Linked DNA regions of Homo sapiens: region 1 is linked to region 2. Evidence: fine-mapped QTL for protein levels in blood plasma. A gene starts in region 2. The other region holds a variant in brackets. All regions are shown on one strand. Distances are between the middles of the regions.

Evidence for each region. PIP is the posterior inclusion probability: the model's chance that the variant is causal. The UK Biobank Pharma Proteomics Project read protein levels with antibody pairs (Olink). The fine-mapping took linkage between variants from a reference panel, not from the people measured, so its PIPs are less certain.
Region 1: its variant is fine-mapped to the plasma level of the CA5A protein (UK Biobank, PIP above 0.99).

The regions. Positions count from the first base shown.
Region 1 is chr16:87,890,521-87,895,891 of GRCh38, reverse strand. It overlaps CA5A (carbonic anhydrase 5A), which reads left to right. Exons shown (of 7, transcript NM_001739.2): 6 at 3,938-4,093. Among named protein-coding and RNA genes, the nearest start is that of SLC7A5, 24 kb to the right of the region's middle. The variant C/T (reference allele first, on the strand shown) is at 2,207.
Region 2 is chr16:87,933,363-87,938,733 of GRCh38, reverse strand. CA5A (carbonic anhydrase 5A) reads left to right here and starts at 2,205. Exons shown (of 7, transcript NM_001739.2): 1 at 2,205-2,425. The coding sequence starts at 2,284.

The DNA.
Region 1 (5,371 bases), 43 kb after region 2:
AACCCAGCTAGACCATGCAGTGAGATATTACTTGGCAATCAGAAAGGACACAGCTCTAACTCATGCTGCGGTGTGGGTGAGCCTCAAAAGCGCCGTGCTGAGTGAGAGACACAAGACACAAATGTTCCACATGTTACATGACTCAGTTCCTATGAAACCCACAGAGACAGAAGCAGCAGGGCGGGGGTGGGGACCATAGCTAAAAAGTACCAAGCTTCCCCCTTGAGGTGGAAGTTCTAAAATTGACTTGGGATGGCTGCACAACTGTGAATATACCCAAAACCATAGAACTGTACCCTTCAATTTTTATTTACTTTTTTTGTTTTTTGTTTTTTGTTTTCTTTTTGAGATGGAGTTTCACTCTTGTTGCCCAGGCTGGAGTGCAATGGCATGAGCTCAGCTCACTGCAACCTCTGCCTCCCGGGTTTAAGTGATTCTCCTGCCTCAGCCTCCCGAGTAGCTGGGATTACAGGCATGCGCCACCACGCCTGGCTAATTTTGTATTTTTAGTAGAGACATGGTTTCGCCATGTTGGTCAGGCTGGTCTCGAACTCCTGACCTCAGGTGATCCATCCGCCTCGGCCTCCCAAAGTGCTGGGATTACAGGCGTGAGCCACCGTGCCCAGCCTATTTACTTATTTTAAGAAAGGATCTCACTCCGTCACCGAGGCTAGAGTGCAGTGGTATGATCACAGCTCACTGCAGCCTCAACCTCCGGGGCTCAAGCCATCCTCCCACCTCAGCCTCCCAACTACCTGGGACCACAGGCGTGCACCACTGCACCTGGCTAGTTTTTGTATTTTTTGTAGAGTCAGGGTCTCGTTATGTTGCTTAGGCTGGTCTCAAACTCCTGGCCTCAAGCAGTCCTCCCACATCGGCCTCCCAAAGTGCTGGGATTACAGACATGATCCATTGCGCCCAACCAGGCTGTACACTTTAGATGGGAGAGTTGCATGGTATGTGAATTCTATCACAATAATGCTGTGGGTTTTGCTGCTGCTGCTGTTGTTTGAGACAGAGTCTCTCTCTCTGTTGCCCAGGCTGGAGTGCAATGGTGCCATCTCGGCTCACTGCAACCTCTGCATCCTGTGCCAAAGCAGTTCCTGTGTCTCAGTCTCCCGAGCAGCTGCGATGACAGGCACCTGCCACCATGCCTGGCTAATTTTTGTATTTTTAGTAGAGATGGGGTTTCGCCATGTTGGTCAGGCTGGTCTTGAACTCCTGACTTCAGGTGATCTGCCTGCCTTGGCCTCCCAAAATGCTGCGATTACAGGCATGAGCCACTGTGCCCAGCCTATAATGCTGTTTTTTTTTTTTTAATTAACTGGATAATTATAAACGTGAACATGCGTGCATAGAACTGATGCATGTGTCTGCCAGTGTGGACACTCCCGGGCTTCCTTCTGGTAGCTCAGCCACCTCTCTTGACCCTGACCCTCACTGCTTGATGTTAGGAGACAAGCCCAAGGCATCTGGGTTGCCAGCTTCCACCTTGGAAGGCCAGGGCCCAGCAAAGTCAAGGTGATGTGATGTGGCTGAGCAGGGAGGCCATCTTCCTTGCAGACAGGGACTCTGTCACTTTGGACTGGACTCTTGTCCCACAGTGCTGGCCAGGGGCAGGTGCAGAGCTATGCTTGGTTGGCATGGGACGCTGATGAGGGCTGTGTTGCGGCCAGGCCCAACCACCGTGAGCTGAGATCATGCCACGGCACTCCAGCCTGGAAGACAGAGTGAGACTCTGCCTCAAAAAAAATAAAAAAAATAAAAAGTTATAAATAGAACTACCCTATGATTCAGCAATCACACACTTCTGGGTATATATCCAAAAGAGCTGGCTGGGCACAGTGGCTTATGCCTGTAATCCCAATATTTTGAGAAGCCAAGGCAGGAGGATCGCTTGAGCCCAGGAGTTGGAGAACAGCTTGGGCAAGATGGCAAGACCCCCTGGCTACAAACAATTAATTTTAAACCCTGGTGTGGTGTCCTAGCTACTTGGGAAACTGAGGCGGGGGGATCGCTTGAGCCCAGGAATTAGAGCCTGCAGTGAGCTATGATGGCATCATTGCACTCCTGCCTGGGTGACAAAGTAAGACCCTGACTCTTTTTGTTTTTTGGCTGTGAGTGTATTCAATGCAAAATAATCCTCTCTGATTTTACTGAGGTAGCTGGCCATGTCCACGACCAAATCTGCCTTTAAACTGGAATT[C/T]GGTTGCTGACCCAGCCCGAGCCTCGGCTATCTTGTCGGCACCAGGGGCACAGCACTCCGTCTGTAGGTATGTCTGTCAGCTTCCCCTCTTGTGAGTCTTGCAGGTCGCCCACCCTCCAGACCTTTAGGCCGAGGCCTGCCAGTCCCTGGACGGCTGCAGCATAGGGTGGCAGGCACAGTTTCCAGGGACAGATGAAGGTAATCACGGAGATACTGGATGCCCTCATTGGTAAGGTAGCAGTAGAAATGTCTCCAGGCAAGCCGGGCGTGGTGGCTCACGCCTGTAATCCCAACACTTTGGGAGGCCGAGGTGGGCAGATCACGAGGTCAGGAGATCGAGACCATCCTGACTAATATGGTGAAACCCCGTCTCTACTAAAAATATAAAAAATTAGCTGGTCGCGATGGCGTGAAGATGTAGTCCCAGCTACTAGGGAGGCTGAGGCAGGAGGATCGCTGGAACCCAGGAAGCAGAGGCTGCAGTGAGCTGAGATCGCACCACTGCACTCCAGCCTGGAGACTCTGTCTGAAAAAAAAAAGAAAGAAAGAAAGAAAGAAAGGAAGAAAGAAAGAAATGTCTCTAGGCAAACTGTTCCTTCAGGCAGCCTCGGGGCTTGAGAGACTGCATGGCCTTCGTGACATGAAGGTTGGGCACATTCTTGTCTGCCATCTCCGGGTGCTTAGGCATGTGGACATCCTTCTTGGCCACCATGACTCCCTCCTTAAAAAGGAGCCCATAGGCCGGGCACAGTGGCTCACCCCAGCACTTTGGGAGGCCAAGGCGGGTGGATCATCCGAGGTCAGGAGTTCAAGACCAGCCTGGCTAACATGGTGAGACCCTGTCTCTACTAAAAATACAAAAATTAGCTGGGCGTGGTGGCAGGCGCTGGAGGCTGAGGCAGGAGAATCGCTTGAACCTGGGAGGCAGAGGTTGCGGTGAGCCAAGATCACACCATTGCACTCCAGCCTGGGCAACAAGAGCAAAACTCCATCTCGAAAAAAAAAAAAAAAAGGTTAAGATGGTAAATTTTATGTTATGTATATTTTATCACAATAAAAAGTAATATTTTTTGCAGCCAAGGTATGCTAAAAGAAATGGCTTTATTTTTATTTTTATTATTAATTAATTTATTATTATTATTATTATTATTATTATTATTATTATTATTATTATTTGAGACAGAGTCTCACTCTGTTGCCCAGGCTGGAGTGCAGTGGCATGATCTCGGCTCACTGCAACCTCTGCCTCCTGGGCTCAAGCGATTCTCCTGCCTCAGCCTCCTGAGTAGCTGGGACTACAGGCGCCCACCACCACATCTGGATAATTTTTGTATTTTTAGTAGAGACAGGGTTTCACCACGTTGACCAGGCTGGTCTCGAACTCCTGACCTCAAGTGATGCACCCGCCTCGGCCTCCCAAAGTGCTGAGATTACAGGGGTGAGCTACTGCGCCCCAAGAAATGACTTCAAAAGGAAAAATGTGAGCACCAACGTAAGCTGGTGTAATGTAACGTAATTCCCACCAATGTAAGTTGGCAGGAATCCTTGCTCTGTATAGAAGGGTCACATTTTCTCATCACTGCTTGCAAGTGTGACAGCAGTGGCCTCATGGCCTTATCTGGGGGAAAGCACTTCCTTCCAAGCACCATGAAGGCCTCACGTGCTGAGACAAGATGGAAGCTCCTAGTCTCCCCTGAGGACTGACACGTCCTGTGCTTCTCGGTCTCTCAGGACGCGCGGGCGGCCATGCGCCCCTTCGACCCCTCCACTCTGCTGCCCACCTGCTGGGATTACTGGACCTACGCGGGCTCGCTCACCACCCCGCCGCTGACCGAGTCGGTCACCTGGATCATCCAGAAGGAGCCCGTTGAAGTGGCCCCAAGCCAGGTGAGCCGTGCCCGTAACTGGCACGATGGCGCTTCATGGAAGGCGTCCCTCTTGCTTGGCAGCGTCACTAAGATGCTGCATGAGAGCGTTGTGGAGTTATATATATTCTTTCATGCATTTGGGGCATTCTTACACAAGAAGAAAATTCCAACTGAAGTAGGAGCTTGTTGAGATTGGACAGCGGTTCCAGTGATCACAGCAAGCATGTCCTGAGCAACGCCCTAATCTATCACACACAGACACACGAGGCATCCATGGGAGTTGTCCCAGGGTCATGGGTCTGCATGGTTTTTGTTTTCTTCCTTTTTCTTTTCTTTCCTTTTTTTTTTTTGAGACAGAGTCTCGTTCTATCGCCCAGGCTGGAGTGCAGTGGTGCGATCTCGGCTCACTACAACCTCCACCTCCTGGGTTCAAGCGATTCTCCTGCCTCAGCCTCCCAAATAGCTGGGATTACAGGCACCCATCACCACGCCTGGCTAATTTTTGTATTTTTAGTAGAGACGGAGTTTCACCATGTTGGCCAGGCTGGTCTTGAACTCTTGACCTCAGGTGATCTGCCCACCTTGGCCTCCCAAAGCGCTGGGATTCCAGGCATAAGCCACCGAGCCCGGCCTCCTTTTTCTTATCTAAATAGTTTCATTGCTTTTTTTTTTTTCGAAAATTAATTAATAATATTTGTATACACTTTTTAAAGTTATACTCTTGGGCTGGGCGTCATGGCTCATGCCCATAATTTTAGGACTTAAAGAGGCCAAGGCAGCCAGATCACTTGAGGCCAGGAGTTCGAGACCAGCCTGACCAACATGGTGAAACCCCGTCTCTACTAAATCTACAAAATTAGCCAGGCGTGGTGGTGCATGCCTGTAATATCAGCTACTTGGGAGGCTGGGGCAAGAGAATAACTTGAAGCCGGGAGGCAGAGGCTGCAGTGAGCTGAGATCACGCCACTGCACTCCAGCCTGGACAACAAGAGCAAAACTCCATCTCAAATAAATAAATAAATAAAAATACAAAAATTAGCCAGGCATGGTGGCGTTTGCCTGTAATCCCAGCTACTTGGGAGGCTGAGGTAGGAGAATCACTTGAACCTGGAAGGCGGAGGTTGCAGTGAGCTGAGATGGCACCACTGCACTCCAACCTGGGTGACAGAGTGACACTCTGCCTCAAAAAAATAAAATAAAAAATAAATAAAAGTTATACTATCATTTTTTTCTGGAAATCTTAAGAATCTGTAGCAATTCTGTCTGTCCAAGGCAGTTCAGAGCCACAGACGTGCTG
Region 2 (5,371 bases):
GAGAGAATGAATGAGTGAGTGAATGAATGAGTGAGTGAGTGAATGAGTGAGTGAGTCAATGAGTGAGTGAGTGAGTCAATGAATGAGTGAGTGGGTCAATGAATGAATGACAATGAATCAGACTTCCCAAGAGTGGGTGCATTTCCACCATGACTGTGTGGGAAGGAGAGAACATATCATCCAGACTTGGTTTTTGTTGCTCAAAACAAATGCAAGCAAACTCTTGGGCCCACCAGAGCAGTGGCCGAAAGCCGCAGACCCTATCCATTGTGTGGGGGATTTCAGTGGGATTCTTGGGCTTTCAGGAGCCTACAAGTGGACTCGCATTTCAACACCTGTGTTCTGTAGGGTTTTCTAGATCTAAGATTCCAGGATTCTATGAAAAGTTATGATAGCCCTGCCCCCTAAAAGATTGTAAGTTTAAACAACAACAAGAAGTCACAAACTGGTGCATCCCAATCCCATGGGTTCCATTTCACAGGTAAAAGGTGTCTGGGTGAATAAACTGCTGTGCCGCTCAAAGGACCCAAAGGAAGGTTCTTTGTGGGTTGGCGTCTGCAAATATCACCAGCTGCCTGGCTAGAGTGACCAGCTAACATACCCATGTGGACCCTGGGCATGAAGGGAGGTACCAGGCCAGGGGCAGTGGCTCATGCCTGTAATCCGAGCACTTTGGGAGGCCACTCTGGGAGGATTGCTTGAGCCCAGGAGTTCAAGACCAGCCTGGGCAACATGGCGAGAACCTGCCTCTACAAATAATTTTTAAAATTAGCTGGACATAATGGCATGCACCTATAGTCCCAGCTACTTGGGAGGCTGAGGAGGGAGGATCACTTGAGCCTGGGTGATTGAGACTGCAGTGAGCCATGATGGCACCACCGCACTCCACCTTGGGTGACAGAGCAAGACCTCACCTCAAAAAAAAAAAAAAAAAGAAAGAAAGAAAGAAAGAAAGAAAGAAAGAAAAGAAAAGAGGCTGGACGCAGTGGCTCATGCCTGTAATCCTAGCACTTTAGGAGGCCGAGGTGGGTGGATTGCCTGAGCTCAGGAGTTCGAGACCAGCTTGGGGAACACAGTGAAACCCCGTCTCTACTAAAAATACAAAAAATTGGCCGTTGTGGTGGTGTGTGCCTATAATCCCAGCTACTCAGGAGGCTGAGACAGGAGAATTGCTTAAACCTGGGAGGCAAAGGTTGCAGTGAGGCAGGATCACGCCATTGCACTCCAGCCTGGGCAACAGAGCGAGACTCCATCTCAAAAAAAGAAAGAAAGAAAAGAAAAGAAACGAAGAAAAGAGGCTGGGCGTAGTGGCTCACACTTGTAATCCCAGCACTTTGGGAGGCCGAGGCAGGCAGATCACCTGAGGTCAGGAGTTCAACACCAGCCTGGCCAACGTGGTGAAACCCCATCTCTACTAAAAATACAAAAAATTAGCTGGGCATGGTGGTGGGCGCCTGTAATCCCAGCTACTCAGGAGGCTGAGGCAGGAGAATTGCTTGAACCTGGGAGGCAGAGGTAGCAGTGAGCCGAGATCACGCCATTGCACTCTAGCCTGGGCAACAGAAGTGAAACTCTGTCTAAAAAAAAAAAGAAAAGGAAAGAAAGAAAGGTGGCCCTGTTAATGTTTATGCCAAGACAGCAGGCATGACCTGGAAGTGTCCGAAGCCACAGGGCATCTTGCTTCCGGGGAGGATGAATGAATCAAATCGCACCTATTTTAAGGCAAGCAAGGACTCCATGACTTCAGGAGCCCTGGTGGGTGGACAGAAGCTCCCTGCTCCCCTGGCCTGTCTACCCAGCAGCGCTTTGGCCAGTCCCATTCCTGTACTTCTGAGCCTGCCTGCCAGTCCCTCCTCACATGCACACCATGGCTTTGTGCCTGGTATTGAGTGTCCCGGAGCCCCAAACCACACGGTCAACCCCATGAAAGAAACAGGGACTCTGCTCTCATCCACTCGCCCCCGCCTCCCGCGTAATCCCCTGGTGCTCACGCAGCCCCACCGTACAGTTTTTCTAGCTCCCTGGCAGACTTGTGCTCCTGTTTGCCAGATCAAAGCCCAGTGACCTGAGTGGCCTGTCCCCAGCAGAGGCCACTAATCCCTGTGGACCCACCCTGTTGGGAAAGGCATGGGTTGAACTTTAACCATTAGGCTCAGGGGTTGGGATGAGTTTCTACAAAAAGAGGTGGGTACACGCCAGTCCACAGTGGTCCTGATCAAAGTGAGAACAGACAGCAGGGAACATCACCCTCTTCAGACTGGAGTCAGTGGGAACAGACCCAAGATGTTGGGGAGGAACACTTGGAAGACCTCAGCTTTCTCCTTCTTGGTTGAGCAGATGTGGGCCCCTCTCTGGAGTCGTTCGATGAGGCCAGGGCGATGGTGTTCTCAGCGTTCCTGTGCATGGCAAACCAGCAATAACACTTGTAAGTAGAGCCTCAAATTTCCTAAGATGCGACTGGATCCTTGTCTTAGCTGATGGGGTCTTTCGAGAGGAGAGAGGAGAGACCGTCCCGAGCCAGATGGGTTCAGATTTCCACTCCGTTTTTTTTTTTTTTTTTTTAAGATGGCGTCTCGCTCTGTGGCCCAGGCTGGAGTACAGTGGCGTGATCTCAGCTCACCACAACCTCCACTTCCCGGGTTCAAGCGATTCTCCTGCCTCAGCTTCCTGAGTAGCTGGGACTATAGGTGCATGCCACCACTCCTGGCTAATTTTTCGTATTTTTAGTAGAGACAGGGTTTCACTGTGTTAGCCAGGTTGGTCTCGAACTCCTAACCTCGCGATCCGCCTGTCTCAGCCTCCCAAAGTGCTGGGATTGCAGGCATCAGCCACGGCGCCCGGCCCTCTTTTTTCTTTTTTTGATGAAGTTTTGCTCTTTTGCCCAGGCTAGAGTGCAATGGCATGATCTCGGCTCACTGCAACCTCTGCCCTCCAGGTTCAAGTGATTCTCCTGCCTCAGCCTCCAAAGTAACTGGGACTACAGGCACCCGCCACTGCACCCAGCTAATTTTTTGTATTTTGGTAGAGATGGGGTTTCACCATGTTGGCCAGGCTGGTCTCGAACTCCTGACCTCAGGTGATCCACCCACCTTGGCCTCCCAAAGTGCTAGGATTACAGGCGTGAGCCACCGCGCCTGGCCACACTCCGTTTCTCTTGTATTTGGTGACCTTGGGTGAATCATTTAGCCTCCGTTTCAGGGGTCCTGGGGAGGGCAAGATGCTGGGAGCAGGCGGGTAGTCCGTGTTCGCACGGGACACACTGGCACGACTCACCATCCAGACCCGGCGGAATGGGCTGCACTAACCAGTCACGATCGCTCCTAAACTCTTCGGCAGAGAACGCTTTCAAGCAAACCTGTAACAAATAAACCACTCAGCCAGCTCTGCCAAGAAACTGCCCCGTGCCAGCCCCTCCTGGCTTCATGGTCAGTGCCTTGTGACCTTGAACGAGGCCCTTCCTCTTTCTGGGTCTCAGGTGCTTCCTCCGTAGAATGAGAGCCTGCTTTGGCAGCTGCCAAGTTCTCTTCTAACTGAAATCTTCCATGCATTCCATGTTTGGGCCATTGAAAGAGCATGGGCTTAGGAGCCAGACCCCAGGCATGCAGTCCGACTGACGCTTGCTGAGGTGGAGCCTCGGCAGGTCTTCACCCCCAAGCCTCTGTGTCCTTATCTCGAGATGGGGGTGGCCAGACTTTCTCTCCAGGGCCATGGAAGGATGACACGATGCGTGTAGAAAGCCTGGCCCACCCCAGACTCTGAGTGAGCTACACTCATTCCTCCTGTTGGGGTCCACACCTGTGGACTGGAGTGCAGTGGTGCGATCTCGGCTCACTGCAGCCTCTGCCTCCTGGGTTCAAGCGATCCTCTTGACTCAGCCTCCCAAGTAGCTGGGACTACAGGCGTGTGCCACCACGCCCAACTAATTTCTGTATTTTTAGTAGAGATAGGATTTCGCCATGTTGGCCAGGCTGGTCTCAAACTCCCGACCTCAGGTGGTCTACCTGCCTCGGCCTCCTAAAGTGCTGGGATTACAGGCGTGAGCCACTGCACCCACCCCCCTTTTTTATTCTTAGTACGACCGTCAAGAGCGCTAGCCTGCCTAGATTGGAATCTTGGCCCCACTGCTCTATGGCTGTTGCCCCTCTGTGACTTTCCTTTATTTTTTGAGACTAATTTCTGTCTTGTTGCCCAGGCTGGAGCGCAGTGGTGCGATCTCCAGCTCACCGCAACCCCCACCTCCCAGGTTCAAGCAATTCTCCTGCCTCAGCCTCCCGAGTAGCTGGAATTACAGGCATGCGCCACCACATCCGGCTAATTTTGTATTTTTAGTAGATACAGGGATTCTCCATGTTGCTCAGGGTGGTCTTGAACTCCCAGCCTCAGGTGATCTGCCCGCCTCAGCCTCCCAAAGTGCTGGGATTGCAGGCGTGAGCCACCACGCCCAGCTGTCCCCTCTGTGACTTTCTTAACTTCCCCCAGCCTTGGTTTTGTCGTCTGTAACAGGGGGTTGATAATGGTGCTTACGGCACAGTGTCGTTGGGAGAAGGGTCCGAGGTGGGGCCTGCAAAGGCTGGGGACAGCACATGGCTCCAGGAAGCCCTTGCTAGACGCCAGCTGCTGCTGTTGCTAACACAGGCAGCGGTGGGTGCCCTGTGTCTATTTAAGCATTTCCCTGTCAGTGGGCAGCAGGTAGCATTCCATTTCTTACTGTGGCAACATGTCCTCTTACATCGTGTGCTAGAGAGAGTCATATTCTGTATCGGCACCTAAATCCATTTACACCATGGTCCTCAACCTGTTCCCAGTGAACAGAGGGCTCTGCCAAATCATTTCAGAGTTCCACAAAGAGCAGAATATTCTGCCAAGCAGAGAAGATTGGAACATCATAAGGAATTCATCCTTCTATGTCGGTGTTTTATTTATGGGCATTCTGAAGATTATTTCACTTGGAAAAAGAATATTGTTACTAAAAATTATTGAAAAATCACTGGTGGTTTGGCCTTGAGAGAAAAGTCAAAGAGTTACAAAACGCTCAGTGATAATTTTAGAACCAGGCATGGGGGCTCACACCTGTAATCCCAGCACTGTTTTGGGAGGCTGATGTGGGAGGACAGCTCAAGCACAGGAGTTCAAGATCAGCCTGGGCAACATAGCAAGAACCCATCTCTAAAAAAAAAAAAAAATTAAAAAATTAACTGGACATGGTGGCACACACCTATCATCCCAGCTACTTGGGAGGCTGAGGCAGGAGGATCACTGACCCCAGGAATTTCAGGCTGCAGTGAGCCCTGATCAGGCCACTGCACTCCAGCCTGGGCTACACAGCAGGACCCTGTCTAAGAAAAAATAATTTTAGGGATCATTTAATGTT